2 linked regions of the Homo sapiens genome follow. The protein of the gene in region 1 interacts with the protein of each later gene in a pairwise test. Each region holds a gene or a part of one and is shown on either strand. Other genes may lie near its edges.

What was found.
Region 2: the proteins of CD83 (region 1) and EIF4E interact in a two-hybrid assay, tested with the Homo sapiens proteins (one large-scale study listed by BioGRID and IntAct).

What each region holds. Positions count from the first base shown.
Region 1 is NC_000006.12:14,115,977-14,120,111, reverse strand, and holds the start of CD83 (CD83 antigen isoform a precursor), read right to left. Parts: upstream 2,341-4,135; 5' UTR 2,301-2,340; coding exon 2,264-2,300; intron 2,163-2,263; coding exon 2,047-2,162; intron 1-2,046. UniProt on the Homo sapiens protein: Transmembrane glycoprotein predominantly found on the surface of many immune cells including dendritic cells or lymphocytes that plays various roles in immune response regulation.
Region 2 is NC_000004.12:98,878,776-98,881,454, reverse strand, and holds the end of EIF4E (eukaryotic translation initiation factor 4E), read left to right. Parts: intron 1-312; coding exon 313-427; 3' UTR 428-2,179; downstream 2,180-2,679. UniProt on the Homo sapiens protein: Acts in the cytoplasm to initiate and regulate protein synthesis and is required in the nucleus for export of a subset of mRNAs from the nucleus to the cytoplasm which promotes processes such as RNA capping, processing and splicing.

The sequences.
Region 1 (4,135 bases):
GCACTATTCCATGGATCAACAGGAAAAAAAGAACGCCTAGAGACTGCTGTCCCTTTTTTTCTTGACAGAGCTTTCAAAGACCTTGGGGGTAAATCTCGCAAGAATTCTGTCCAATAAACAAGCTCATGCGTTACCGAGTTACGTCACCAGCTGACATCCAAGGAGAAGTCCAAGGTTAATTGCTATGGTTTAGTGGACCATTCCAAATGACCCTGTGCAAGAAGCTTTCACTCCAGAACTGTTTGAACTTCACAGCCTGAAATTTCATCTACTTGTTTCATGAGTACTTTTTAATTACTCCCCTGGGGGTATTAATAATGTTTTCTTTATTAAATAGTTACTCTCTGGAAGGGATAGTGGTTTCATGTTTTTCCCCGTTCTTTGAGATAACTAAGTCCCTGCCTGGTTAGCCCAGGGGCACTTTGATTTTCTTTATCTTAAGTTATTAAGGGAGAAAACAGAGATCAAGATAGACCTCTAACAACTCAGGATTTGGAATCAGACTGCTTCGTTCAAATCCCAACTCCACCATTTAGCTAGCTGTGCAAAAGTGGACAAGTTATTTCCCTCCCTAAGGCTCAGTTTCCTCACCTGTAAAGTAGGAATAGTAACAGTACTAATCCCTAAGTCCATTCTTCCGATGGATGGAAATGGATAATGTATGTAAATATTTACCTTGGAGCTTGGCACGTGGTGAGCATTCAAAAATTGTTTTTACAATATTTTTAAAAATACTATTGTTTTGACTATGAGAACAATTTCGGAATTGTTGTGTTCTCTGATCCCACAGTAAGTAAGGTACCAATGAAGTAGGAATATTTAACACCTTACTTTTATACACAATACAATGCTCTGAGGCAGCAGCACCATCCCCGTCATGCATAACTCATGAAGTGCTGGGCTGAATTCACAGAGCACCTTTGCAATTTATAGGGCAAAAATTAGGTGCCGTGAAGAATACACAGAAGTATGGATACAGCCACTGCCCCCCAGGGAACTGACCATCCAGTTAGGAGACACACACACAAAGAGATCACCGCAATGATGCCTTGTACTGTTAAGTGGCCAAAGACGTACAGTTTCTTATAGTATCTTTTATGGTGGGCAGAAGAACGCCCTGCATTTTGGGGAAAGCTACAAGTGCAGAGATTTGCCCCCGTGGTAAGACAGCAAATCAGTGAGAGCTACAGAGTAAGGTTGTAATATCATATTCATTTGGGTTAAAATGGAGGTGCTGTGGTAGCAGTGGCCTGACTTAAAGAAGGACCAGTGATATCAAACAGTAGCTGCTTGGCTTTGGAATGACACCATCATTGCCATCTTAGAATCTGAGAATGTTTCAGTCAAGAGGAAACCTTGAAAAAGCCTCCTTGTCACTCAGTCCACTTACAGTAGGAGCAGCAAGGCCTGTTCTTACACATGCGGGCTCCGGCTCATGCATCCACCTGATGCTCTCAAGGCTGCCAGAGGAAGGAGGAGGAGGGCTAGGGGAGGAAGCCAAGGGTATCCCACAAAGGAGATGACCACTGATAACTACCATGGATGAAATGGCCTAAGTCACTTCTGTGTCTTAGCCTTTCCTTTCAAATTGCCCCCTCCCCCTCCCATGTATCATGGGCATCACAGTCACAAAACACAAGAAATCAGAAGTCTGGAGACATTCCCCCTGTCCAATGCCCAAATCTAGGTCCCTGTTGCTTTCTTCCTGACCTGCTGGCCCACAACCACAGGTGGCCTCCAGAATTAATCCAAATGAGAGTCTCTGCCCTTCCAAAACATCTTAAGTGGATCATTCATCTCAGGCCACCTTCAGTGACAGGAAGGGGATTGAGGTCTGCGGAGAGCAAAACCTAATTCGGCCCTGTACCTGGATGCGGATGGGGTGGGGGAGGCGCGACGGGAGGCTGGGTACTCCAAGTTCAGCTGCGGGAGACGCCCCTCGCCCCCACCTGGCAGCCACAGAGGGTCGCCAGCCTAGGGGAGATGGTTCCTGCTGTCTTCAAATGAGCCCACCAAACCCCAGCCCGTGGGTATCGCAGCACCTACCTTGACCCAGGAGACCGTGTAGGGAACCTGCGGATCCCAGGGGGCGGTGCAGGGCAAGTCCACATCTTCGGAGCAAGCCACCTTCACCTCCGGCGTCGCGGGAGCCAGGCTGTAGGCTACAAGAAAGAGAGAGCGCGTCGTGAGCAAGCGACCGACGGGAGGGGGTGTCGTGGAGGGGCGGGGGGCGACAGGCGAGACAGGCGCTCGCGAGCCCTACCGCAGCTCAGGAGCAGAAGCTGGAGGCCGCGCGACATGGCTGGAGCGCTGCGCCGCTGCCACGAGCTGCAGAGCTGTGGCGCGCGGGCGCCGGCTGCCCTTTTATGCCCGCGCGTTCGGGAACTTCCCTGCGCGCCAGCCCGGGGGATTCCCCGGCGGGCAGCGGAAGCGGGTGGCGCGCCCTCCTAGTCCCGCTTAGGCCGGGGCGCCCCCGTCCCCGCCCCCTTCGCCCCCGTCCCCGCCCCCGTCCCCGCCCCCGTCGCACCCGCCGCCCTCGCCGCGTGCGCGTCCCCGCCCCCGCGCGCCCGGGCCGGGCGCCCCGAGTTCGCGTCGCTGCTGCGGCTGGCAGCGGCGACAGCAATCCCCGCGTGACGCCCAGCGCTGGGGGCTTTGCAGACCGCGCTCGCGCGCGTGACGCTGCCGTTGACCCGCAAAAGGAAGCCGGGAACCGGGCCATCCGAGCGGGATCTGCCCATTTTACGGAGGCCAAACCAGATTCCGAGAGGGTGGGCAACTTCCTCAGAAGCCCAGCCTGTCCTTGGGAACGCACTGGTGAACCCAAGTCCTCACTCTTCTCCAGAATCTGTGATAATCAAAGGCGCGTTAGATTTCCATGGAAACATACAAGTCTGTAGTACTTGGCTCCCTGCCTTCCCCGGGAGGTTATCAGTCAGTACCGTCCTGTTTAAATTATATCACCAAAGGAGAGTGTCTCCTATTAAAATAATAATTACACGCATACACAACATTTTTGGAAAAGAAAATTCTAGAAGACAATGAAATCACCTGTAATTCATCCAGGAAGTAACTTCAGTTAACATTTTTTTATATTATAAAATGTTTATAACATAACATAACGTAAAATATTTATAACATTTGTCAGTGCACAGATTGGTATTTTTAATGGTTTATTCTTCCTGCTATCTTGTAACCTACTTTCTTTTAGCTTAATAATTTGCAAGCGGTTCCACATCATTAAAAACTTCCAACAGCATCATTTTGGTCCATTGTTCAGTTGCACCATAAATTAGAATCGATTAGTGTTAGACATACAGGTTGTTTCTTTTTGTATTACTAATATTAGAAACAATACTGTGATTGCTATGGGAAACTTCAGTGTAGATAAATCTTTGCTCTAAAATTGCTTATTTTCTTAGAATAAATACCTCAAGGAAATTGTGCTAGGTGAAGGGGAGTTTCCAATTTTGTCAAATATTGCCAAAAAATTACCTGCAAGGAGGTGTCTTCAATCTATATTCCCATCTGCAAAGAGAGTGCCTGTTTGCCAACACAAACTGTTATCCAACCTTTCTATCTTTGTCCATCCAAGAGGTTAAAAAGAGTGGCATCACTATACCACCAGTTCTAATCTGCTCTTGGAAGTAGTTATATCAATTGACAGTCCCGCCAGCTTGTGTGAGTACCTTTTCTCCAGCAGCCTCACCAAATTAATTTTTTAATTGTGAAAATGTTAAGCATACAAAATAAGTATAGAAAATATGGAATTGAACACATCTGTATACAATTTATTCTTGAGAAATAAAACAGTACTAACATTTTCGAGACCCTCTTTTTTTTTTTTTTTTTTTTTTTTTGAGACGGAGTCTCGATCTGTCTCCCAGGCTGGAGTGCAGTGGCCGTGATCTGAGCTTACTGCAAGCTCCGCCTCCCGGGTTCACGCCATTCTCCTGCCTCAGCCTCCCGAGTAGCTGGGACTACAGGAGCCCGCCACCACGCCCGACTAATTTTTTTGTGTGTGTATTTTTAGACGGGGTTTCACCGTGTTAGCCAGGATGGTCTTTTGAGACCCACTATGTGTCCTCTGCCAGATCTCATACCTAGCCATTTATGCTTCTTTTCAGTTTTTCCTGAT
Region 2 (2,679 bases), on another chromosome or scaffold:
TGTTCACTGTTGATTTAGTAATAATTATAGTATCATAATAAATAACAATATAATAATATAGTAATGCTCCTGTAATTTAGTAATAACATACCTGACTCGCTCTCAAATATTTTAAAAGTAATTAACCAAGAATATCGCAAAAATGAAGAGTAAATTGTGCTGAAAGGAAAAGGGTGTATAATTAATTTCCTATTTTATTCTCAAGTCTATGTTTTTTAATATAAAGACTAATAACCCTAAATTTTTAAATGTATTTCTTGTGAGTAAAAGTTAATGACTACTTTTTTCTTCTTCTTTTTTTTTTTCTTCTAGGAGGGTATACAAGGAAAGGTTAGGACTTCCTCCAAAGATAGTGATTGGTTATCAGTCCCACGCAGACACAGCTACTAAGAGCGGCTCCACCACTAAAAATAGGTTTGTTGTTTAAGAAGACACCTTCTGAGTATTCTCATAGGAGACTGCGTCAAGCAATCGAGATTTGGGAGCTGAACCAAAGCCTCTTCAAAAAGCAGAGTGGACTGCATTTAAATTTGATTTCCATCTTAATGTTACTCAGATATAAGAGAAGTCTCATTCGCCTTTGTCTTGTACTTCTGTGTTCATTTTTTTTTTTTTTTTTGGCTAGAGTTTCCACTATCCCAATCAAAGAATTACAGTACACATCCCCAGAATCCATAAATGTGTTCCTGGCCCACTCTGTAATAGTTCAGTAGAATTACCATTAATTACATACAGATTTTACCTATCCACAATAGTCAGAAAACAACTTGGCATTTCTATACTTTACAGGAAAAAAAATTCTGTTGTTCCATTTTATGCAGAAGCATATTTTGCTGGTTTGAAAGATTATGATGCATACAGTTTTCTAGCAATTTTCTTTGTTTCTTTTTACAGCATTGTCTTTGCTGTACTCTTGCTGATGGCTGCTAGATTTTAATTTATTTGTTTCCCTACTTGATAATATTAGTGATTCTGATTTCAGTTTTTCATTTGTTTTGCTTTTGTTTTTTTCCTCATGTAACATTGGTGAAGGATCCAGGAATATGACACAAAGGTGGAATAAACATTAATTTTGTGCATTCTTTGGTAATTTTTTTTGTTTTTTGTAACTACAAAGCTTTGCTACAAATTTATGCATTTCATTCAAATCAGTGATCTATGTTTGTGTGATTTCCTAAACATAATTGTGGATTATAAAAAATGTAACATCATAATTACATTCCTAACTAGAATTAGTATGTCTGTTTTTGTATCTTTATGCTGTATTTTAACACTTTGTATTACTTAGGTTATTTTGCTTTGGTTAAAAATGGCTCAAGTAGAAAAGCAGTCCCATTCATATTAAGACAGTGTACAAAACTGTAAATAAAATGTGTACAGTGAATTGTCTTTTAGACAACTAGATTTGTCCTTTTATTTCTCCATCTTTATAGAAGGAATTTGTACTTCTTATTGCAAGGCAGTCTCTATATTATGTCTTCTTTTGTGGTGTCTTCCATGTGAACAGCATAAGTTTGGAGCACTAGTTTGATTATTATGTTTATTACAATTTTTAATAAATTGAATAGGTAGTATCATATATATGGAATTAAATTGATGTGGCTATCTTTGTTTTTTTATAAAGTAAGGCACAGTCATTCAGTCTTAGGTAAATAATGTACTCTCTTAATATGTTAATACTCATGAGAATTGGGATCTGATGCATCACCATTTGATTGGTAGCAACAGTGGTTGTAAAACTTGGTTGCTGAATTGAGTTGTTTCTATGTTAAGTGTCAAAATGATAGTGTAGGGAAAGTACAGGTGGTGGGGACATATGCATTAAGAATCTTGTTAGTGTTGCAATCTAAATAGAATGGAATAAACAGGTGTTAAGACATATTTATAGTGGTAAATTGTTGTAGTATGGTATTCTGTAAACTTGAAAACTTGATCTACTCTTTGTAGGTATCATTTGAAAGCAAACTTGAAAATGTTTTGTACATAGTACATACTTGTATAGTCCTGTGAGATGAAGTATGGCTATCAGACCAAAGGATAAGCCAAACTGTAGGTAGCAGAATGGAAATTATTATTTTGAGAGGAAAATTTGTCTTTGAATGGTGATTATGACTTAATCATTTTAAAACTGATAAACTTGACAAAAACCCTGTATGAAATAAACATGAAATTAATAGCACTGATTTCATTGTAAAATTTTAAAGCAGTTTAAAGGGTACCACAGGTTATCACAGTACTCTCAATGCCACAAACACCTCTTGTTCAGTATTCTAGAAATACTGAATCAGAATTCTGTGTTTATTATAATCTCAGCATACTGTACATAATATCTGCTAGTTAAACTTGGGTAATTGGTTAAGGTGACTTACTGTCTATGTCAATATGTATAGTTTTGAGTACTTCAAGAGTTTACTTAAAAGTGATGATGTTACTGGTATGTTGGCAGTGGGTGGGACTGAAGTAGTGTATCTATTATAAATTGATCTATTTTCTTAATTCTAAGATGAAGTCCAATTTTAAGCATCAGCTTTTAGGTGCAAAGGAGGAATTAACACATTAAATGTATACAGTTCTAAATTTTTGAAATAACTGATGTGTAGCATTTGATTATTGGTATTACCATTTTAGAATCATGATGTTATTTTAAACCTTTTTCCTGGGGACAAGAAAGGATAATAA